Linked DNA regions of Homo sapiens. The protein of the gene in region 1 purifies or fractionates together with the protein of each later gene. This does not show direct contact. Each region holds a gene or a part of one and is shown in the gene's direction. Other genes may lie near its edges.

Region 1 (6,423 bases):
ACAACATTAGTTGCTAAATTAGCTAGCCTTTATTAATTACTTTCCCCAAATCTCTATAAACAAGGCTCCAGAATTCATGGCTATATGAGGGTGGTAAAGCTGCTAAAATGTCTGCAGGCATCTTCATCAACATCTGAGTAGTTTCTTCTTTCAAGAATGCTTTAATAGAAGAAGAAACTATGGTAGACAATCATGTGCAAATAAACACAATTTCACAAATAAACCTAGACATGCCTGTCACAGGTTGGGTTTCTTGGGAAGCAGACTCAGAGTTTAGTGTGCAGGACAGGCAGGATGCTTATTAGCATGTGCCCTTGAAATCAACAACTGTGGAAAGGAAGGGAAGGAAGCAGGAGTAAGAGGGAGAAGCTGAGTTGCGATGCAGACCCAACAACAGCCTTGGCTGATCTTATGGAAAGTTCTGGATCTGAGATGTCCATTCATCTGTCTGGAGTTGGGCAGAGGAGGGTCAGGTTTTCATACCCTCCTGTCAATCAGCCATTGAATGTGGGTTGCCCCAAAAGGGTGTGTGACCTTGGGTGCGGCTGCTCTCTGCAGCAGAGGCAGTGCCCAAAGGGGGCTGACAGCTGAAAGCCGTCTTCTGGCAGCACTCCCAGCAGCTGGGGGAATAAGTCCTTTATTCATGATTATTCCTGGAGGGGGATCTCGGGAGCATACCACAGCGTTCACCACAATGCTTCAGTGAAAAGTGATAAAAATCAACTCATAATCAATGCTAAGAACTTGGGAAAATGAGAAGGATAGAGGAAGGTGAGGATAATTACAGTGTTTGAACTGACAAGACTTCCATATGGAGGGTCTTGGAGGTGAGGCTGGGCTAGAGTTTTGAGGAGCTGACACATTGTGATGAAGAAGCCCAGGAGGGGACAAGAGAGGAGGTGTTCAAGGGTGAAAGGCTGTGATGGCAGAAAAGGGCAAGATGTGTACAGGGATGACAATAAGATTGGCTTTCCTGCAGCAAGATGTTGAGAAGAATTAAAAGAGACAGAAGCAGAGGATGGAGGTGGGGAGCCTTGATGCTCTTAATCAGCTTTGACTTAAGAAACAAGTAGTAAACATCAGAGGCTTCAGAGAAAACAGTTCTTGCTGCTGTGTACAGAATAGGTTGGAGAGTGAGGGTAGAGGCAGGGAGGCTGCCTGTGGGAATCTGGGATACCTTGGGGAGCTTTAGCTGTTCCCATGATGTCTCCTCACCCAGAGTAGGAACTAGGCTGAGCAAGCGAGGCACCTAGGGTGCAGAATTTGTGCATGCATGACCCTGAGAATGTGTGTTTCTTTACATTTTTTCTAGCGCCTCCTTAAATGTTTTGCCCTAGGCACCTCGCTTGCCTCTCCAGAGTCTGACTCTGCCCTCACCAAACCATCCCGGACAAATATATAATCTTAGCAAAAACAATGTATTTGTTCTGTCAATGCCTTTCAAAACAAGCACCCTGCCCTCAAAAGGCTTGCTGGGGAATGCAAAAGAATGAGAGGTGTGTAATGGGGGAGGGGGAGCTGTTAGTATTTAGCTGGGATGGTCAGGGAAGGTTTTTCTGAGGAGGGGACATTTCAACTGAGACCTGAAAAAGTTATCCACATGGAATGGGTGGAAGAAAGAATTTCAGACAAGAAAGGATAGCATGTGCAAAGATAGACAAACATGCATTCATTTGCACACTTCTGAATATAATCCTCTTAAGCCATTATGGAAACCGGAAGAGGTGCTTCCAAGAGTTAGAAAGCACCATGCCTTATGTTTGCCTTTATGATTAAAGAAGTCGGAGATAGTGAAAGCTGGGGCAATTGGTTGTCTCTTTAAATTCCAAAAGGCACTATTGAGTTTTGGAATTCTAGATGTAAAAATCATATTCTACTGAACATGGTGGGACCACATCTTGAAAAAGGGAAGGAGACGCGATATTGAAAAGAAAATAATATATATTTAAGAAAACATGTATAATAAAATTACCTAAATAAGATTTAAATTCTTCCTCCTTTAGGGTTATGAGCCGGATGCTAGTGTAACCAAGTTGGCAGAGCAGTATGCCAAAGAGGTATGCTCTTTACATGTAAAGCTATTATTGCCTTTTACTGTCCCATGAAGTTATTTAACCAGCGTGTTTATGTATGCTAGAATGGTACCAAGCTGTTGCTGACAAATGATCCATTGGAAGCAGCGCATGGAGGCAATGTATTAATTACAGACACTTGGATAAGCATGGGACAAGAAGAGGAGAAGAAAAAGCGGCTCCAGGCTTTCCAAGGTTACCAGGTTACAATGAAGGTACAAATTGATGCCTCTCTGAAGGTTCATTAATTCCATTCATGAAGGCCAGAACCATCTAATCACTTATTCACTTTAGGGGGAGCAGACTGTCCTTTCATTCCCTATAAAAGGACTCACTGACTGTATCCCCTAGGGACTTCTCTCCTTCCAAAGATTAGCTGTGTCCTTTGGAAAGGCATTTTTGTGCTGGATGAAGGAATTTGAAACCCACTGAGAAGAGAGGAGCAGGCTTTTCCCTCTCACAAGAATCGAGGCATTGCAGTGTTTTACTCTTTGTGTGTTTAGAGAAATTAGGTTACTTCTGATGCATGCAGTTTCTTATGATTTCTCCCCTAAGAAAAGCCCCTTAACTATGCTCCTCAGGCTAGTCCTTGCCTCTATTTTCCAAGGACCTCTAAATCCAGTTTAGTTTTGCTAATGCCCTCCAGGGCATTCCCAGGGGACTCATCTGTTTGGCTGTCTTCCAGTAAGATCTGGAACAATGCTTCTCAGTCTTGAGCAGGTATTAGCATCACCAGAGGAGTTGTTAATACACAGCTGGCTGGGTCCCACCCCCAGGGTTTCTGATTCAGTAGGTCAGGGTGAAACCTGAGAATCTGCATTTCTACCAAGTTCCCAGGTGATGCAGTGCTGCTGCCTCCAGGGCCACACTTTGAGAAGCAATGTTCTGGAGGAATACCCTGAAAGCCAAATGCACAGGGGTTTTGTCAGCAAAGCAACAAATCTACTTTGGTGGAGAAAGGGATTAAGCAAGTACAATTAATATTATATTGATAAAGTAATACATAAATACAAGTTCTTTATTGTTATATATAAAATAGAACAGAAGTTTGAAAAATAAAAAGTAAAAATGTCTTTCTCCCATCTCTTTAACAGAGACTATTCCTAGAGGTAGCCTCTGTTTAATAATTTGATGTGTCTCTTTGCAGACCTTTTCTGTGCATTTACATATGTATGCCTCAATACACACATAACTATTGATTTTTTTGTAAATGATATTTTAGACATTACTTATTTATTTATTATTATTCTTACTTTTTCCACTTAACAAATCTTAGATTTTCTTGCTCACTCATTTAGATATTTTTTATTCTTTTTAGTTGCTGCATAGAATTCCAAAGGATAAGTGGAACCATAATTTACTTAAAATGTTTCCTATTGATAAATTAGGCTATTTCTGAGAATGCCGATTACAAAAATGCTGCAATGAACTTGCTTATCCATATTTCTTTGTGCAAATATTACTGGAGAATAAGATCCTGAGGAGAGGAATTTTGGGGTGAAGTGGTATAAATTTTTTAAAATATGAGAGTGCTGCTAAATTGCTTACCCAAAGAAGATTAAAAATGTATACTGCTGCAGCTGTATATTATAGTTATTTTTCCATATCCTCTCCATGTTTAGCTTTTATTTACATTTTTAATTTTTCTAAATCTGGAGGAAAAATGGCACCTCATCTTTGTTAAAATTTGCAATTCCTTGATTACTAATGAAGTTAAGCATCTTTTTATGTTTATTGGGCATTGCCCTTTTTTCTATAAATTGCTATTACATTTTTTGCCCATTTTCTATTTTTTTGCCTTTTCTATTATTGGTTATAGGAGCTCTTTATATATTATGGCTAATCCCTTATCATGTGGAATATATTTTCATGGAGATATTTTAAATTATATAAATTGCTTCATACTTACACTTGCTTGGCCAATCTTATATGTGTTGCTGGTGCTGGAACTGTAGGATTGAAGAACAGTCATTTTGTTGATGTATGGCATTTATAAATGTTACTTTTTTCCATGTAATTTTGCTGGTATTTTAGAAACTCAAAATGTCCTGAACCTAGAGCTTGGGTGGGAGGTAAAACAAAATTGTAGTACAAAGGCAGTAATTTTGAGGTAAGAAAGTATGAAGGAATGTAGTTTTGAATCTGTATGTGAACAATAGAAATATATAGGGAAATGTAACTTTCAGCAATTAACTGTTGGAGAAAATTAAAACTGCTAGTACATTTGCATTAAGAATGAAAAATCTAATGCATAGTGCTTATAATCCTGTTTAATTCACCCCTACCTCATTACCTTTATCTAAATTGTTTTAACTAGTGATGGAGTATGCTTCAAGTGCTAAAAATAATAATTTGGAGATCAGCTCCAAATATAATATTATCACACCAAAGCAACTTTTTAAATATAGTGGACTATAATTGGTGACTTTTGCTATCAGCCACATATTACATTAGTAGAGTTCTTTACTGAAAGGTCTACTGTTCCACTAAATAGAATAACAGAAAACTGAGTTACTGGTGTAACTTGAAGTGGTACTCTCTTAAATTTAAAAAGAAAAAAAAAAAAAAAAGACTTGCCAGACACGGTGGCTCATGCCTGTAATCCCAGCACTTTGAGAGGCGAGGCGGGCGGATCATTTGAGGTCAGGAGTTTAAAACCAGCCTGGCCAATATGGTGAAATCCCGTCTCTACTAAAAATACAAAAATTCACTGGGCATGGTGGCACATGCCTGTAGTCCCAGCTACTCAGGAAGCTGAGGCAGGAGAATTGCTTGAGCTCTGGAGGCGGAGGTTGCAGTCAGCCGAGATTTTGCCACTGCACTCCAGCCTGGGTGACAGAGCGAGACTCTGTCTCAAAAAAAAAAAAAAATTTGAAAGTACCATGTACATTTCTCCTAGGTGTCTTGAGATAAAACCATCACTCTGCTCCTTTGTCTCTCCCTTTGCATTGATGTCTGACTACTGGCCATGTGTGTTTTTAGATACTGAAGAAAACAAATATGACTGCCACATATAATAGTCAAAAAGTGGTCTTATCCCCATCTCTTTAGACTGCTAAAGTTGCTGCCTCTGACTGGACATTTTTACACTGCTTGCCCAGAAAGCCAGAAGAAGTGGATGATGAAGTCTTTTATTCTCCTCGATCACTAGTGTTCCCAGAGGCAGAAAACAGAAAGTGGACAATCATGGTAAGCAAGAAACAAGGAATGGAGGATAAGTTCTTTGTGTGGTTCCAACTTGGTCATTCATGCCTTTGGGGAAATAATAAGCAAGTGAGATTATCCAACTACATTACTTGCTCATGTAACATCTATTTTTTTCCAGAAACTTTATAATACATCATTAGTGCTTATTAGCATTTATAGTGTATTTGCATGGAGTGAGATTAATCTCCTTTCAAATAAATCCATTTTAACCAAAATTCTTACCACCCTTGATCCGCCTGAGCACCAGCCACCAGTTTGCCAACCATTATAAGTCATATAATTCTTATTTTAGAATCTCTTTGTTCATGTTTAGAGAAGCCCCTAATTCAGTTCCTGTATAAAATGGGCATTCAAAACATCTTACTTTTTCCCTTCTCTTTTTCCTCATTCCATGCCTTACTTTATGACTGGACTAGATACTTGTTTTCGTTCTTTGAGTTTGGCCATAGGGATATATGTGTTTTTAGGTATAGAACATTTCCAAATTTCATGGCAAAACTTATCTTAAAAATTAATGGTTCCTTTCAGATAAAGCCACTAGTTTCATCTTCATCACTGTCATTCTAGGAAATATTAACCATATGTCTACTTTACAATATCCCAAATGTCACCTGCTCTGGAAAATAGTACTGACATGTCTAACTTAGCTCCACCATTTTTTTAGCTTTTAGTGACTTAACTGGTCTCAATTACTGTATCAGCCAGGATCTTACTTGCAAACGGGAGTCCACTCTAGGTAGATAAATGGAAAGTAATGTATTAAGAGACATTAAGCGGCTCCCAGAATCTTTTGGGAAAGGAAGTGCAGTGAATAATTCTTGGACACCATATAGCCAGGGACAACACAGGCAGAAAAATTGCCCAATGACACTGTGGTTCTTTTGTAGCCAGAACACCACTGACACAGCCTGGTACCTGAGGCTCTTGAAACCAGATGTCAGATACTCCATTATAGCCACCACAGCTGAAATAGATTTCTCTACCTGCATATGTAGCAGAAGATCCAATCTCTCCGAAGACGGCTTCCACTGCATGTTGTTTGCTTCTGCACCCAAGTCTGGAGTAGATGCAGCTGAGTGGGATGCCTGTACCCTAGCTGCAAGGGAGTTTGGGAAAGGCAGTTTTTAGCTTTCAGCCTCTGGAG
Region 2 (6,423 bases), on another chromosome or scaffold:
AAGTGGGAAGAGCTAAAGGAGATCAGAGGTGAAAATTAAAGGGGCTTGGGAGAGAATTTAGCAGGGTAAGAAGGTAGTTGTCTTATGAAAGGAAACCAAAGACTTAGTACTGTAAATTTGAGTTCTGTCTCATCTCTACTTCCACTGCCTTAATCTACTCCATCATCGTCACCTGGGCTGTTGCCATTATCCTCTAACTAGAGTTCCCTACTTCCATTCCTGGACTACTTTACCCCAGTTCCTCTCACTGCTACTGTAGTGATCTTTCTTGCCATTTGAAACAGTTATGCAGTAAATGAATGAGTATTTTTGCTCTCCTTCCAGCAGCATTGAGATAGTCTCAAGTATTTGTCATCTTAAAAGCCTTTCTTTGATGTACATTCCCCTCCAGGCTTCTCTCGTTGATCTGTATTTGATCTGTTTTACACACAAGCATCTCTGAAGAGTTGTCTACTTGTACTTTGAATACTTTATCAGCATCCATTTATTCTTACCCACTCATGAACAAATAAATAACTGGTTTTACCGTCCTTCCCCACTGGATCATTCCCATCAACATTTACACATACTGTTATCCCCCCACTGACCTCTAAATAACATCCAAACTCCTTAATGTTTCACACAAGTTCCTCATACCCTAGTCCCTGCCAGTCTCTCTCTAGTTTTATCTGTTAGCAAACTTCCTTTGAAAAAGAATGGAGAGGAGGGGATGTTCCAGGTAAGGGGAGCAGCAACATAAACAAAGGTACAGAGGCATGAAACCACCTTAACCATTTGGGGATGTTTGAGCAAATTTTCATCATAATACCTGTTGTACTTTCATTTGTTTACTTTTATGCCTGTCTCTCCCACTGGATAGTGAGCTCCTTGAGGTAGGGAGTCTGACTTATTTATTTCTATATCCTCAGATCCCAGCAACAGCTTCACTGCCCAGGCTGTCCCTTGCCCTCTCTACCCCTTCACTATGGCAGGCCCAGTTGCAGCTGTAGCCACTAGCAGGGTTGACCCTGGTCCTGGTACAGCCCCCAGGGCTGCTTGCAGCTCTGGCCAGGCAGGTGCCATGCCCGACTAAGCAGAAACCCCTGGTGAGGCTCTTTATTGAGGAGGAGCCGGCCCACTACAGAGAGAAGAAAAACATCCCATCTACATGACAGTGAAGGGAGTGGTGTTTTATGTCACCTCCAGAAAGGAATTTTATGGAAGAAGGGGCCCCCTATAATGCATTGACCAGGAAAGTCCACCAGAGGGATAGCCAAGATGTCCCTGGGTCCTCCAGACCTCACCCATGAAACTCTGGGTCTCATGGCCAAAGAGCTGGAATCCCTGGATGATATCTTCACCAAAGTGTACAAAACCAAATATCCCATGGTTAGCTACACAGTCTGAAGAATTCTTAATAGGGACAGCACCCCAGCCTGGACTTCAAACCTGAAGACCAACCCCATTTTGACATAAACAATGTGTTCTGTTGTTTCATCTCCAAGAGCAGCTTCTTTGGAGGGTAGGTTAGGGAGATACTCAGATGCTAAATCTTCTGCAAAATAGGCTACCTAAAGCCTCTGAATCACCAGGATCTGAATAAAGCAGATGTTTAACCTGGTTGGGGGGACATATTTTCAAGAACTGGATGTATTCAAGTAAAAGCTTGACACCTAGTAAGGAGGCTATAGGATTCTTGTCTGAAGAGGTGATCCAGCAAGATGACCTCAAAATTCTAAGTACCCTGAATGTAAGTACCTGAGAGACTAAGCCCTGTGTAAACCTAGGGAACAGCCTGCAAAAGAAAAATGTTACACAGGCCCCTTGAGGATTAACAACAGTTGAATAACAGGATTTCTTTTTCCAGTTTCTTTATTTCTAGGCCTGTGCCCAGTTCTTACTAACTGAAGGCAAATTTTTCAACCTCTCTGAATGGCAGTGTCCTTTCTCTGTAGAGGTGGAAAGTGATGCTTTGTTATTTTAGAATTCAAAAAGGCCCAGTTGGTTTACCCTTTGGTTTACCTCTGATCAGGTCAGACCCAGCTGCTTTTGAGTCCCGCCTGGAGAAACGCAGTGAATTTCGGAAGCAGCCAGTGGGGCATTCCAGGCAAGGTGATTTTATCAAATGTGTGGAACAGAAGGTAAGACCTTCCCCCATTTGTGGTGTTTGCTTACCAGCACTCCTTCACCCTCCTTACCCTCACCCTTATCCTTAAAGTTGGTTTATTGATGGGTCAGCTGGGTGAACTGAACATAGTCTCTCCCAACTCCATTTCCATCCATAAATGTTTATCCTGCTCTTTCTAGGCAAAGTACTGTGGTCATGGTGGAGATATAGAAGTATGAGAGGGGTACTTCCTGCTCCCAAGAGGAGCAGTCTGGTGGTCAAGGCAAGGCACACATGGTAGTAGGCTAGAGGTATCAGAGAAAATTTCCCATGGGAGATGGAACCTGACCTAGGCTAGGAACGTTGTGGGGGATTTAAATTAAGTAGAGAGGAAGGAATGGGACTTTGATGTAGAGCAGGGGTCATCAAATTTTTTCTGTAAAGAACTAGATGTTAAATATTTTAGGCATTGTGGGCCGTATGGTCTTCTTTGTGACTACTCAGCTCTGCCATCATAGTGCAAAAGCAGGCCTAGACCGTACGTAAATGAATAGGTATGGTTCTGTCCCAGTAAAACTTAATCTACAAAAATATTTGGCAGACTAGATTTAGTTTCCTGACAACCAGCCAACCCTGCCAACCCACCCCCATCCATTCCCATGTTGAGGAATTAGCTTAAACAGAGGAAGAGCTTTGAAAGTAAAAGGGGTTTCAGGAGACAGCAAGGTACTATGCCCAGTTAAAATGGAGAGGGAAGTGTTAAGGCTAAAGAAATAAGTTAGGCATTAAACTCTTTGGGCTTAAGGAGTACAGGCAGGATAATTTAGCTGCTAAGAGGATGGGCTCTGGGGCCAGATGCCAAGGACTGAATCCTAACCCTTCCACTTACTAGCTGGGTGACTCTGAGCAAATTGTTACTTCTCCATGCCTCAGTTTGCTTATCTGTAAAACAGGAATAATAACAGTACCTACTTCACAGAGTTGTGCTGAAGAGATAATACCATTTAAAACTCTTTAGCGCCGTCTCTGGCATAAGTACTTAATATATATTAGCCATTATTATCCTTAAATAGGAATCAAAGCTGAGGAAAAGCATGTTGAAAACTGTGTCTGGGAAGATTATTCTAATGCAGTGTTTTTCAAACTTTTTGACCATGACCACAATAAGAAATATATTTTACATTGCAATTCAGTACACATGTAGGTATATGATTGTAACTGAAAAAAAAATGTATAAAATAATGCTAACTTTTACAACATGCAGTCCATTCTTATTACTTTTTATTCTCTTTCATCTTTTAAAAAACTCTGATCACAATCCACTAAATGTATTTCACAACCTATTATTTGAAAAATTCTAACCTAGGATGGTGCACAGAACAAACTGGTGTAGGAGAGGCCAGCGCCAGGGAGAATATGGAGTAATCCAGGTGTGGGCTGCAGAAGCCTGAATTAAGGTAGTTACAGTAGAAAATTGGGATTCTACATTGTGTTTTAAAGTCAAATTAGAGGTGTTTATTTTACTTGGAAAATACTTTTTTTGCCTTGGGTATCCTGAATTTTAAGTGAATCTGCTGAGTCTTAATGACTACTACTCATCTGACAAAGGGCTAATATCCAGAATCTACAGTGAACTCAAACAAATTTACAAGAAAAAAAAAACCCCATCAAAAAGTGGACAAAGGATACGAACAGACACTTCTCAAAAGAAGACATTTATGCAGCCAAAAGACACATGAAAAAATGCTCATCATCACTGGCCATTGGAGAAATGCAAATCAAAACCACAATGAGATACCATCTCACACCAGTTAGAATGGCAATCATTAAAAAGTCAGGAAACAACAGGTGCTGGAGAGGATGTGGAGAAATAGGAACACTTTTACACTGTTGGTGGGACTGTAAACTAGTTCAAACATTGTGGAAGTCAGTGTGGCGATTCCTTAGGGATCTAGAACTAGAAATACCATTTGACCCAGCCATCCCATTACTGGGTATATACCCAAAGGATTACAAATCATGCTGCTATAAAGACACATGCACATGTATGTTTATTGCGGCACTATTCACAATAGCAAAGACTTGGAACCAACCCAAATGTCCAACAATGATAGACTGAATCAAGAAAATGTGGCACATATACACCATGGAATACTATGCAGCCATAAAAAATGATGAGTTCATGTCCTTTGTAGGGACATGGATGAAGCTGGAAACCATCGTTCTCAGCAAACTATCGCAAGGACAAAAAACCAAACACTGCATGTTCTCACTCATGGGTGGGAATCGAACAATGAGAACACATGGACACAGGAAGGGGAACATCACACACTGGGGCCTGTTGTGGGGTCGGGGGAGTGGGGAGGGATAGCATTAGGAGATATACCTAATGTTAAATGACGAGTTAATGGGTGCAGCACACCAACATGGTACATGTATAGATATGTAACAAACCTGCACGTTGTGTACATGTACCCTAAAACTTAAAGTATAATAAAAATAGAAAAAAATAAAATAAAATGACTAATTGAGTTAATTAGAACAGGATTAATAGTAAATGGGTTGCCAGGCGCAGTGGCTCACGCCTATAATCCCAGCACTTTGGGAGGTTGAGGTGGGCAGATCACTTAAGGTCAGGAGTTTGAGACCAGCCTGGCCAACAGGGTGAAACCCTGTATCTACTAAAAATACAAAACTTAGCTGGGTGTGGTAGCAGGCGCCTGTAATCCCAGCTACTTGGGAGGCTGAGGCAGGAGAATCGCTTGAACCTGGGAGGCGGAGGTTACAGTGAGCTGAGGTCATGGCACTGCATTCCAGCCTGGGCAAAAAAAAAAAAAATAACAGATGGGTTAATTATAATAAGGTTGGGGAGCAAATTCAACTCCTATGACAAATAGAGTTTACAACTTTATGTGAGCAAACAATTCTTTACTACAAATATTTTAACAATTGTCATTTCCTATAATAAACACTTATAGTAGTAAGGTTACAAGTCAATAGCTCTTGGAAATATTACTATATTATAAACTTTAAATATTAGATAGGAATGTTCTTTGCCCCTTTTTGGTAAACAGACTTAGAAATTTGGCTTTATGAGGCCGGGCGTGGTGGCTCACGCCTGTAATGCCAGCACTTTGGGAGGCCAAGGCGGGCAGATCACGAGGTCAGGAGATTGAGACCATCCTGGCTAACACGGTGAAACCCCTTCTCTACTAAAAATACAAAAAATTAGCCGGGCGTTGTGGCAGGCGCCTGTAGTCCCAGCTACTCGGGAGGCTGAGGCAGGAGAATGGCGTGGAGCCAGGAGGCGGAGCCTGCAGTGAGCGGAGATCACACCACTGCACTCCAGCCTGGACGACAGAGTGAGACTCCATCTTAAAAAAAAAAAAAAAGAAAGAAATTTAGCTTTATGATAAAATGTAGAATATGTAAAGATTTAATTTAAATTGTGGCAGCTCTTAGGTAAATATTCACTTGCTATCTTCTGTATCTAGCTAGATAGAGGAAGGCTAACGGCTAACACATATTTTCCATTCCCACAGTCTTGTCTTTACTACTTTGAGTTATTGGTTCCCCACCACATGGGACTCAACATCCCCCTTTTATAATACATTTTTTAAAAATTCTCCCTTTTCTACCCTGAAATAAAACAATAGGTATGTAAAAATATAACCTACCTGTATGTATAACCTCAGGTGGGAAAATCAATATAATGCCCTAACCATAATATAAAGAAAAGTATTTTTTAACAAAATACATATTTTAGCATGTAAATATTAGGGCACGACTACACTGTGAGACCTAATGTAGTCATGAGGTGCTTCCACCCATTTCTGAAATAACCTTGAACATGTAAGCAGCAAATACTGACTGGCAAATGGGTGTTATGTTGATAATTATAAAAACTCTAAAACCACCGGGTGCAGTGGCTCACACATGTAATCCTAGTACTTTGGGAGGCCAAGGTGGCAGATCACTTGAGGTCAGGAGTTCGAGACCAGCCTGGGCAACACGGTGAAACCCCGTCTCTACTAAAATGCAAAAGAAAAATTAGCCAGGCATGGTGGCGCATGCCTGTAATCCCAGCTACTCAGGAGGCTGAGGCAGGAGAATTGCTTGAACCCGGGAGGCGGAGGTTGCAGTGAGCGGAGATTGTGCCACTGCACTCCAGCGTGGGCGACAGAGTGAGACTCTGTCTCCAAAAAAAAAAAAACCTCCAAAACCATGAGCAGTGTTGTTATCAGTGACCTATGATTCCACAATGTGGAATCTTTCAAGTTATATAGTAGTTGCATTTCTGGAAATTTTAGTATTAAAGCAGTGTTTAAAAAAAAAAG
Region 3 (5,539 bases), on another chromosome or scaffold:
TGAGACATACAAAATGGGAAGGCTTCTAAACAAGCTAAAATGTATAAGAAAACTGTTAACTCTAAAATGAATATATTGGAGTTTGTTGAAATTTCTGCATTTGGTTGGAATCAGTTTCAGAAGGCTTCATGAAGTTAAATTTTAATCAGTGCTTTAGGGAAGAGACGAGACTGAAGGCACAGAATGAAAAGAAGGGCATTCTATCTATAGTGGGAAAAATATGCCTAGAATATATTCTGCTCCTCTCCTCTCTCTCCTGGTCGACATAGCAAACTGCTATTCATCCTGCAACAAATGATGTCAACAAAGTGGTCAGGGAAGGGATAAGAATGCAGCTTACACATATACATGTACAGTAAACTCTAGATTCATATCCTTGGACATTATGTACTGGAGTAGAGTATATGAGTCAATGAGTAATGAGAATAAAAGTTTAGAATGGGAAAAAAACGCATACTTGATGGTGGTTTGATATGTATTAGGAGTTTGGATTCATTTGAGAACTGGGAGCTGTATTAAGTTTGGAGCAAGTTGATTACTCTTTAGCTGTATTGTGTTTCTGTTTATTAAGCTTCAATTTTTTTTTTTTTTTTTTTTTTGAGACTGGGTCTTGCCTTGCCACTCAGGCTGAAGTGCAAGTGGCATGATCATAGTTCACTGCAGCCTTAACTTCCCAGGCTCAAGCGATCCTCCCACCTCAACCTCCTGAGTAGCTGCAATCACAGGCAAACACCACCATGCCTGGCTAATTTATTTATTTATTTTTTATTTTTTGTAGAGGCAGAATCTTACTATGTTGCCCAAGCTGGTCTCCAACTCCTGGGCTCAAGCGGTCCTCCCATCTCAGCCTCCCAAAGTGTTGGGATTACAGGTGTGAGCCATTGAGCCTGGCCAACTATCTTTTTTAAAATTAGGGCTTGGGTTTTGTTGGTTCAGCTGTTAGCTTGCAAGAAATGCAGAAAAGTTATGTCAGTGTCTGACAAATGTTAGCAATTTTGTAAGTTTGCTAACACTTTGGTTATCTAACTTTATTCCTATAGTTGTAAAAAAGCACTATGATTAAAAACTCCTTTATTGGCAGTATTCTAAAACCTCATGTTAGGTTGACAGTCTTCTTCCCTTTCCCCAAATTTTAATACCCACCCCAGGTTTCTAAAGCAAAAAATTGAAGAGCATTTTCCTCCTGTGTTTATAATCCCAACTAAAACACTATGTAATACATGTTGGAAATATTACTGTGCTTTGTATATGTATTAATTTTTTTTGCCCTAAATTGGCCTCTAGGAATGTGAAAGTAGATGTACCCACCTGATAAGAAAAAGTGAGCTAAGTAACTAACTTGATAACTAGGCATTCAACAAGTCTTTTTCTCTATTTCATAGAATCAGTGTCACCTTAAATTATAATAGGTTTGCACAGAATTCGTGAATTCTTGAGATAGAGTCTTGCTCTGTTGCCCAGGCTGGAGTGCAGTGGCGTGATCTCGTTCACTGCAACCTCTGCCTCCCAGGTTCAGGCAATTCTCCTGCCTCAGCCACCTGAGTAGCTGGGATTACAGGTGTGTTCCACCACGCCCAGCTAATTTTTGTATTTTTAGTAGAGAGGGGTTTCGCCATGTTGGTCATTCTGGTCTTGAACTCCTGGCCTCAAGTGGTGCACCCACCTTGGCCTCCCAAAGTGATAGGATTACAGGCATCACTGTATCTGGCTGAAATTAGTGTATTCTTTAAAGTTCATATTTTTCATTAATTCACAGAAGAATTGTAAAAAAGGTAACACGCAGTTGACATTCCATTTTTCCAGAAAGACAGATAATTACATACTGTAGAGGATGACTCAAAAGTCTGTTTCAAGCCACTGACTTCCTAAACTAATGAAGGCCTATTCAAAGTCACTTAATTCAGCTGTTTTTTTTTTTTTTTTGATAAATACAAAGATACATGTAAAGTTTTACTTACCTGATTTTAAAAACAGGCTACCAAAATTTATCCAAATATATTAAAAAATGAGACTGTTTTAAAAACCTTTCGTTTCCATATTGTGACTCCACTAAGCGGGTAAAAAGTTCAGGACAGAGATGGAAAGGAAAGAAGGAAACAGGAAGAAGTGAAACTAGGAAGGTGGTGCCAGTGGCACATGGATGAAGAAAGAGAGATCATCAGCCATGGAGAATTTTGTAATGTAAGTAGAGAGAGAGATTGGGTAGGAAGACAGGCTTCACAGTTTGTAAAGTGTAAGGGAACTACCCATCGTACCCTGTCATTGACTAGGGCTGTGAGTTATGTAGTTCTGTCTCCTCTTGCAAAAGACTTACCACTTCTGGCAAGTGATTAACCACTTCTGGCAACTCTTCATTTCTTCTTATCCTTGAATATTCATCTACATCACTCTAAACAGCACAGCCCCAGAAGCATGGAAAGGGGAGTTATTAGTATGGAAAGGGGAGTTACTCTTCTGGTGTAGTGGTCCGATTGAGTCCATGGCTTCCCAGCCTTACCAGAGGTGATAAAAATGTCAATTCCTTTGGGGCCAATCTTGCTCCTCCAGTGTGTTTTAGCCCTAATGAGGTCATGGTTATTTCTAGACTTCTGAGACTTACTGTGGCTTTGAATTGACACAAACACTAATTTTCTGTCAAAGGCTAGAGTGATGGATGTTATATGCCTGAATTTTCTTTGAACATTTTATTTTAAAAGAGATACTTTGGGCTTTTCATGAAACTAAAATTCTGGAACCCTAGAGCAGTCTATTATATCTGTCACCACAAGGACTTTCCTTAAAAAGCTCCCTCCATAAGCACTTGGATGTGTAAACAAGATCCTTTCACAGATCTTTTTCTCTTCCTCTCCATATCCCAACTTGTCTTGGAGACTACTTTTTGAATTATAAATCCCTTTCTGCATTTCTATTATTAATTTTTATTTGTAAAATTGCTAAAATAGCTAAATTTGGCCATTTAACCTGCATTTAAAATCTAGGAATGTGGGGTGATCATCTTTGTACATAAATTACCTAATGACCCTGTCCATGCTGTGCTACGTGTTTAGGTGGAATAACACTCCCATGGATGAAGCACTGCACTTTGGACACCATGATGTATTTAAAATTCTCCAAGAATACCAAGTCCAGTACACACCTCAAGGAGATTCTGACAACGGGAAGGAAAATCAAACCGTCCATAAGAATCTTGATGGATTGTTGTAATGGTCTCAAATCCCAAGATTTAAATCACTTACCTATTTAATTGTGGAAAATGATTATGAAGAACATGTGTATTTCTATCTGGTAGTGATGTATATTTTACATTTGTCATTTCAGTGTTACTGGAGTTTTCTTCATTGTGCACACAGGACAAATCTGATCTCTTTGGGAAAAAATAGAAATAAAACAATCTCCCTCCATAATGTGAGCAATATTACCTCGTGCATTGTATAATTTGATGTAAAAGAAATAGTTACCAATGCTAGCTTGTGTGGTCTTCCATGATTTATTTGTGTTTTGTGAATTTTCAATTTATGGTGATGATCTGCTGATATGCATTTATAAAGTAAGCTCTGTTGTACAGTCTGTCCAAATGGGTCAAGGTTGCCTTTAGAAGCAAATAGTGTGATTTTCAAGACTTCAAATACAAATTTAGTTTAAGTGTTTGAACAACTATATGCACTTACGGTTGTGTGTTTAAAATGTCTCTCTCACCCCCTAGCTTCATGATGTGACTCTTAAAAAACTATAATAGTTAACAACTGTTAGTAAGATAGACCAATTCTGATTAGACTTTATCAGGGAATCTGTTTAAGATATGTTTGGTGACCAAAACGTATGTGTGAATGTAGTTATAATGCTTTTGAAAAATTTTCCTTTTTCTATATCCCCTTAGTCCAGCCTCTCTTCTCAGACATTTAGCTATCTGCCTCTTTCCTTTAGCTGGGAAAGTGAGAGCTGGCATACTATGCAGTTTTTATGTTTTCCATAGTAAGTCAGAAAATGCCTCCTATTTCTGGCATCAGAACTTTGCCATTTGTCTACAGAAGACGAACCAGAGACAAAATTACTAAGTATAAATTAGTCAAGTTTATCAGTCTAAAAAACGAAGGGATGTGCAACTGCAGCTCTTTAAGAAGTTTTTTTTTTTTAGCTTCTAGGGTAAAGATAAATTCAGAAATGCTCTAAGCTACCAAAGTTATTCTGAAAGTATGGGAACTGCTACAACTAACAAACATTTGTTTCCAAGCCTGTCATTAAGAGTCTGCATCAAGAGATTTGTCCTCCTTGGGGGACCACTGGATCATTCCAGATTTCTTGTGATTTTTCTATTGTGTAATTCTTGGTGGGCTCTGTAGTTTAATAATAAGAAAAAGGCCATTTCATTTTAAATTGTGACCTATAATTCTTTGTCTTGGGTTGGTAATTCAGGATTCATTTGGAAAGTGGGTAAAAGGGGCTTCAAAAAACGGATAGAACAGGATTTTCTAGGAGTTACACATACATTTTATCCTGTCATACCTCGAGATAAAGTGGCATGTTAGTGAGGAGTTCTGATATTAAGCACACACACACATGCACACAAATGGACTTCTCTGAAGCTGTGTTTAGTGAAATGAGCTCAAGTACATGAATGTTAGTTGTTATCACATACAGCAAATTCCTTTTTTTTTCTTTTTCTATGAGCACACTCTGCTGCTTCTAAACTTTACATGCCTGATGGCACCTTACTCCAGCAGCCTCCAGGTGCTTTCATTTTCACTTCCAGTCTAAGCCAGTGGCTCCTGCCACTGCCCTCCCATTACCTAGATGGCACCTCCTTTGGTGAAACCACGGCCAATGTTCCTTAGCTGCACCAGGCCCGAAGCTGTTCCCATGCTTGAGCTTCCATGGGGAGGATGCTGAGTGAGCAGTTTCCTACCCCGTGGATCTAGCAAGCCATGGAGACAGGTAGCATTTGTAAGATGCTGCACAGGAGCAGCATTATCCCCAAAGATATTACAGGGTAGACACGTTTTAACTGAAATCAATCAAGATAACTTTATTCAAAGAGCAGCCCGCTTTGTGTGACTAAAATGAAACAAGACAGTTGAATTGTGTGACTTGAAGATTACCAATGATTTTGAGGCTTTTCTATAATAAAAAGAGGTTCTAACCATTATTTGGGAACAAAGAGAGTTTTCATCTTTTTTCAGATCAAAACCATTCTGTAAAATCTTTGTTGTTTAATTAAATGTGCCGTTATTTACCCCTGATGTTATTTATGACTATGTGCCGATTCCTGCTCGGGCTGTTTGCTGTTGGCTGGTAATAATATATTTGATTTAAATGCTGTTGACTGTGCTATTAACTGCTGCCGTCAGTAAACTCCAAAGATCTTTTTGTTTTGGCTTTAGTATCATATGTGCTTTTTCTGTATCCTGAGCGCTCTATATGATCATGTTAATTTAAAGCTTTATACACATTGTTGTTTTTGCTGGTCTCATCTTTGGTAATATGCTATACCCCACTGCTGCCCGACACTGCCCTTTAGCTGCAGAGCTGGATTAGCTGTTGA
Region 4 (6,423 bases), on another chromosome or scaffold:
ATTTTAGATTCCATCTCATTAGGGTGTCTTAATATTAGCAAATTAGACTCTGGAGACTTTACAGGTAGTGGCTTTGGAGAAGTTTCTGCAAAGAGTAACTTGGGATTTTGCTTTATAAAGGTACCAGAAGGACGACGGTGAATAGTTAGAGCAGAGGCTAACAAGATGACTTGCAATTGTGAAGCTTAATGGCAGTTTAGAGACAAATCACACCATATGATAGACTCATCATGTTATAAATGGGTATTAAGTATTATTAAGTCCCAAGTAGGAGAATATTTGCCCAACTTCCAGTTATGGCTTAAAGTTTAATGTGAGACTTGGGGGCATTCAGAGGAGACCATGCCCTTAGTCCACATCTTCACATCTAATCATAATAGTGCTAACATTTTAAAATGCCACTTTAAGAAGGCAGTGATGTATAAAATTGTGCCTTGTTTGGTTCTAGTGCTGCAGGGAAATGTGAAGCAAAAATTAATTTGATCCCTATGAAGTATTTGCGTAATTTTGGCATTAGTGGACAGAATTTTGCTTTGTAGGGGAAAAAAGGGTTTGTTAGAAAAAATAATGTTTTCTTAAAGTAGTGAGAGCTGGCTATTGAAAATCTACCTTTCAATACTTTCCTTTTAAAAGAAATAAATGTTCTAGCAGCTACATGAGTTGTTGCGAAGAACTTTCTGCACATGAGAGCATACGGACACAGATTTAAAAATATATTAAAAAGTACTTAAAGGAACTTAATAAAATTATACTTAAGAAAATATTTACAGCCATGGCAAAATTGATCAGCTAATGCATAGTTTCTTCATTACTATATGTAGGATTTTCATTCATGGTGTTTTTAAAAATGCTTAGTCTGATAAACTGAAAAAGCGTGACAGAATATACTAAATGGAGAGTTAATAGCTATAAAACTTACTTGACTACTTCTTAGTTAGTATGGGGCCAAATCTAATCTCAACTTTTTACCACAGCTTCATAGCAATTGCAGATAAAGTAATTAGGGTTCCATATTTTAGGATACATTGTACTTTTAAAAAACATTTTATTTAACGTGATCCTACTTGGTCAGAAGAACTCATATAAACACTTTTGGATATATTAAGTTAGAACTGAAAAATAGCACAAAAAAGACTGCTAATATATAAATGGGGGTTAGGGATAGTAAATCCAATGGAAGGCATCTAGTTGAAGGTGAGTTATTATGAAGTTCCAAGAGAACTTGTTATATGGCAGTCTTTCTAACTTTTAAATTTCTTCTCTCTTTCCCACCCTACTCCTTTACACATACAGACTCTCTGTTTCTGGTCTTCCAAAGTTAAATCCAATAGGTCAAAGTATCTGGGAAGTTTGAAATATTCATAACATCAATCTTATAACTAGGACTTAGGATAAAAGAATCAAGATGTAGATTTTGTCAAAGGATTCTTCTCAATCTATTACATTCCCTGTGTCTCTACCAAGGCATTTCTAACATAAGAAAGGCATAACACAGGTTTATATGGCAACAAAAATCATCTTTGATTTTCCTGTAATATTTCTAGCCACCTTTCATCGCATTAGGATTTATTTTTAGTTGCTGTGAGTAGGCAATCTGCCTTGTTTTGAAGTTTTCTGGAAGACCCTTTAACATTAAATGATTTACTCTAGAGTAGATCAAGAGCACTCACTGTGTTTTCCTCTCTGATTGGGCTATTCAGTGATGCTTGTGGAGTGGCAAGTACCAATCTGACATCTGCGCTTCAGCATCGCTCAGAAACACAAAGCAAGCATTTTATTTGAAAAGACAACTCCAAGTGACATGAATAACCTTTTATCTTTAATATGGAATCATTAGGAACAACCATAGAGTTGTCAATCCAGAGGTCCCCGTAGAATCCACAGGCATCACATAGTATTAACTTGGCTTTCTTTTCTGTAGCCAGGAGTTGGATAAATGTGAAAATGATCATTGGAGGAAATATATATATTTTTCACTTTTAAAGGACTGTCTTCTTTATAAACATTTCCAAGAAAATAAATCAGCTTGTACTTTTCACCTTTCGTAACAAATGGTTTCTTACACAGGTATTTTCAATCAGCTTTTAAATCTGAGGCTACTCAGATGCAAGCTGACAGCTGTAATTTCTTTTTGTAGAGAGGCTGTTTTATGTGTCACAAGTGTTCAATACATGTTTGATAGAAGTTTATAATGTGCCTATGGAAGCCAACACCCAGACCAGAAGGTAGAGTGGTTTCCTGGCTGGGAACTGTCGATACTGTCATGTTGGATATTTATCTTTTCCACCTGGGGGACAACACTGAAACAGCTCCATAATGAGGTTCTGCCTGGTGTCTGCAGGTCTTAGAGGACTTGCTGACTTATTTTACTTTAAAATGGCAAAGAAAAAAATTACATTCTAGTACTCCTCCCTTAATGTTTTTCGTGGTGATTTTAGCCAAGGTTAATGCAATCTTGACTTCATATTACACAATGAGTGAACGATAGTCTTCCTATCCCCTATTCCCCCCTTTCTCAAGCTTAAGTATGCATCAAAATCACCTGGAGGGTTTGTAAAACAACAAATTGCTAGGATCCACTCCCAGAGTTCCTGATTCAATAGATCTGGGGTGGGGTTCAAATTTTCATATTTTTAATAAATTCCCAGGTAATGCTGATGCTGCTCTGCCAGGGACCACAGTTTGAGAACCACTCTACTTGAGCGATGGTACTTTAGAAACCTGGTTAAAAGTTATGTTAGCACTTATTATTGTCAAACATATTATCAGGGAATTTTTGCTAGGGGAAAGTATAAAAGATTGAGGAAAGTTGAGTGCATGATTAATGTATCAATTAGCAAGTGTTGGAGATCATTATGCTGAGCCTTCTAATGTGATTTGGTACTTACTGAAGTCTATTCTGTGTTTAGCAGAGGGTCACAATGTAATGTTCCATATTAGGGGTATTTAACAACATTTGGAAGTTCATTTTGGACATTTCATATATATTTGTTATATACCAAGGAATCTTAAAACATGAAAAAAAATTTATATGCCATCAAATTTAGCCCTTTGCCTTTTCTGAGGAGAATGAAACTTGAATTGTCTTATTCTTCTGTCTAACCAATTGTCCTGATGTCACTAAGAGTTATTCTCTAATTTTTTACTTGTTTTTTTCTTTTACGTCTAACCATGAGCTTCTTGCATCTAAGCTCATTTCTTTCTGTTTGGTCCTAAGTGGAAATGAAAAGCTACTTTCCTGGGCATGGTTAAAATTCATGTTCTATAAGGCAGTCATGAATAACCACTGAGCCTGCCTCAGCTGAAATTCATCCAGTTACATTTATCTATTCTATTTACCAATAGTTTCCTCTTATAAAACTGCAGTTCTGGGATTGAGGGGGCCAGAATCTGAAAGAATTTTATATTTGAACATAGTCTTTGGGGTCTTTTCTTAGGATTTAGATCTGTGCTCAGAAATACTCTGCAAGTAAATATTAGGGGGTGTTATGGGCTAAACATTATCAAAATTGTGCAAGGATCACATGTGTTTTATTGTCACAGTTCCTAGTTTCTGACTCTGAAATAAGATCATTTGATTTTTTCCAGCCATCACTAATATGGTTTATAAACAGGTTACAAGACATTTGCTGAAGTAACTAGCTCATGTCATCTGTTTAAAACCTTTTTACAAGGGAAACCAACAAGAATGTTCCTATTTAAAGAAGAATGGATATGTTTTTAACAGTGTGTGATTTTAAATACGCCAGCTCAGTTACTCAGACACTCATGTTAATGAAGTCAAGGTCAGGGTTTGATCTTTGGGTAGGTCACCTAGTGTTGTTTTCTTTCATTCTGACCACTATCTTGCAAACACTAGCTCTTGATCACAGGAAGTATGTTCAGAAATAGGGAACTCCTGATGGCAATGGTCAGGAATCCAGGGAAGGTAGGGGCTGGACACTAGACAGGTCCACCTGGGGTCCTAGGAAAGACACAGCAATGGACTACAGGAAAATATCTGAACAGTGAGATGGAGCATTAGGGAAGCCTGTGTGGAAATGAAATGCGTATAAATGAGGGGGCAGTCAGTTTGGGTTGTAAGTGTAATCGTGGGTAGAGGAACCCATGCTTGGAAACTAGGATGTAAGGGCAGGAATCTAGTTTTTAGGGGGGCTGAAAAAACAATTATTGTAATTATAATAATATTTATTAAGAACTATTAATAGGCAAGTAACTGTGCTAAATTATAGTAGTAACACTTAAGTAGTGCTTACTTCTAAATTAGTTTATTGAACACTCATACTAATGTAAGAACTGTTACTATTCCTGTTCAACAGATGAGGAAACTGCATCTTAGAGTTGTTAAGTAAGATATTCAAGGTAACACAGTTTAATAAGGTGTGGAGCCTCAAAAAAAAAAGTTGAAATACTACTATTGTCATCACTGTTTTTGAGTGAAGAAATGAAGGCAAAGACATTAACTTTTTGAAGCTCATACCACTAGTGAATGGTGAAAGCCAGGATTTGAAATGCAGCTAACTGACTTTAGAGCTCATTCTTTAGCTACAACTTTTTATTGCCTCAGAGTAAATGAAAAAAGAGTTCCAAAGATTGAGTTATTGCAGGGACTAGTGCATAAGCTACTAGGAAAATGGCCTAGTTATTGAAGAGCAGTACAAAATTAGAACTTAGAAATAAGAGCAAGTTGAGCCTGGGTGCAGTGGCTCATGCCTGTAATCCCAGCACTTTGGGAGGCCGAGGTGGGTGGATCACCTGAGGTCGGGAGTTTGAGACCAGCCTGACCAACATGGAGAAACCCTGTCTCTACTAAAAATACAAAATTAGCTGGGCATGGTGGTGGATGCCTGTAATCCCAGCTACTCGGGAGGCTGAGGCAGGAGAATCGCTTGAACCCAGAAGGCATTGCAGTGAGCCAAGATCGTGCCATTGCACTCCAGCCTGGGCAACAAGAGCAAAAAACCCCATCTCAAAAAAAAAAACCAAAAAAAAAAAAAAGAAATAAGAGCAGGTTGAATAGGCAAAACAGCTAGCCTGACTCGGTACTGGCTCCTAACCCGCATATCTTTTAAGTCCTCCCTGACCAGGAAAAGGATCCTTGTAGAACCGAAGTGGATCTGAACTTACAAAGACCAAGTAGATTAAATAGAGAATAAAAGGAGATAAGAACAAGGTGAAAAGCAGGGATCAAGATTATGTGGATGGAATTTCATTGACATTGGGATATAGCTAAAACTCACACTCACCATAGAAGGATAAAAGGATAAAACTTGTCATTTTTTAATATAAAGCATCCGGCAACATGTAACATTGTCTTTTAAGATGTTGTAAGGAAATACCATATTGCATAAATGAAGAGCATGTATATCTAGAAAGTGAATTTTGTGAAATTCCTTTTCAGCAATCATTCCGGCCAAGATTCCTTGGTGTGGCTGAACAATTACACAATGAAGGTTTCAAGGTATGTTCATTAGTTTTAAGTTGTTTTCTGTCAGCATGGAATCTGTCCACAAATCAAAATATTGCAGAATATTGGAAAAGAAATAGCCCAAAATATGTCCTTTTGATATGAAAGGTTTAACTAACTTGGTAGTTTCAAAACTTAGAGTCAAATCATTAAAAAGACTGGTATTAACTTTTAACAAAATTACCACAAATTCAATAGAAGTTGCCAGCTAAAAACTGAGAAAGTTTAGCTTAAGCACAATTGAGACAAAGTCCCAACACATTTCCATATGTTTTTCCTTTTTTTGTTTTCATATGAGGTTATAGATTCTAGCTGTGACAGTTACAGGCAAAACTTCTTTGCAGTGAATACCTCCACACAAAGCCTGGTTGAGTAAAACAAAATTATTCCCAAGGCTTATGATGGGCCTGTGGCCATGGGGATTTTTTGACCTGCTAACAAGGAATTAGCCATGAATAATTGAGAAATTATTAAATTTATGAGAAATTGTCATTGAATTATTAAATTCAAATTAAACATATAATTATTAAAATGGAAATGCAAATAAAATTGAGGTTCTTAAGTTTTTTAAATCACTGCAAATATATAAAAAATGTTTAAAGTGCCCATGCCTCTGGACTGTGAGTCCAAGTCTCTATCCATGGCACTATACTACTTCTCATGTTCAGCAATTTCTTCTTCTTTATGTTTTAAATTACATGTTCCATAAAAATAAGAAATCACTGTGATACGGTAATTGATTTTTTCATTTTAAATGCAGCTGTTTGCCACGGAAGCCACATCAGACTGGCTCAACGCCAACAATGTCCCTGCCACCCCAGTGGCATGGCCGTCTCAAGAAGGACAGAATCCCAGCCTCTCTTCCATCAGAAAGTAAGAACTAGGCATACTGTTTTCTGAAATAATTTAGAGGATTAACTTTGAGAACCAGTATATGAATATTTCACCTTACTTGA

The links.
Region 2: the proteins of OTC (region 1) and ATPAF1 purify together in Homo sapiens (affinity purification with mass spectrometry; one large-scale study listed by BioGRID and IntAct). This does not show direct contact.
Region 3: the proteins of OTC (region 1) and GLS purify together in Homo sapiens (affinity purification with mass spectrometry; one large-scale study listed by BioGRID and IntAct). This does not show direct contact.
Region 4: the proteins of OTC (region 1) and CPS1 purify together in Homo sapiens (affinity purification with mass spectrometry; one large-scale study listed by BioGRID and IntAct). This does not show direct contact.

What each region holds. Positions count from the first base shown.
Region 1 is NC_000023.11:38,406,739-38,413,161, forward strand, and holds part of OTC (ornithine transcarbamylase, mitochondrial precursor), read left to right. Parts: intron 1-2,003; coding exon 2,004-2,057; intron 2,058-2,137; coding exon 2,138-2,287; intron 2,288-5,054; coding exon of another isoform or gene 5,055-5,123; coding exon 5,124-5,261; intron 5,262-6,423. UniProt on the Homo sapiens protein: Catalyzes the second step of the urea cycle, the condensation of carbamoyl phosphate with L-ornithine to form L-citrulline. The urea cycle ensures the detoxification of ammonia by converting it to urea for excretion.
Region 2 is NC_000001.11:46,660,953-46,667,375, reverse strand, and holds part of ATPAF1 (ATP synthase mitochondrial F1 complex assembly factor 1), read left to right. Parts: intron 1-1,497; exon of another isoform or gene 1,498-1,727; coding exon of another isoform or gene 1,728-1,729; intron 1,730-2,011; coding exon 2,012-2,120; intron 2,121-3,452; exon of another isoform or gene 3,453-3,543; intron 3,544-6,423. UniProt on the Homo sapiens protein: Has a complex stabilizing activity in the assembly of the mitochondrial F1-F0 complex.
Region 3 is NC_000002.12:190,959,783-190,965,321, forward strand, and holds part of GLS (glutaminase kidney isoform, mitochondrial isoform 1 precursor), read left to right. Parts: intron 1-3,047; coding exon 3,048-3,204; coding exon of another isoform or gene 3,205-3,244; 3' UTR 3,245-5,539. UniProt on the Homo sapiens protein: Catalyzes the first reaction in the primary pathway for the renal catabolism of glutamine. Plays a role in maintaining acid-base homeostasis. Regulates the levels of the neurotransmitter glutamate, the main excitatory neurotransmitter in the brain.
Region 4 is NC_000002.12:210,669,501-210,675,923, forward strand, and holds part of CPS1 (carbamoyl-phosphate synthase [ammonia], mitochondrial isoform b precursor), read left to right. Parts: intron 1-5,401; coding exon 5,402-5,461; intron 5,462-6,227; coding exon 6,228-6,340; intron 6,341-6,423. UniProt on the Homo sapiens protein: Involved in the urea cycle of ureotelic animals where the enzyme plays an important role in removing excess ammonia from the cell.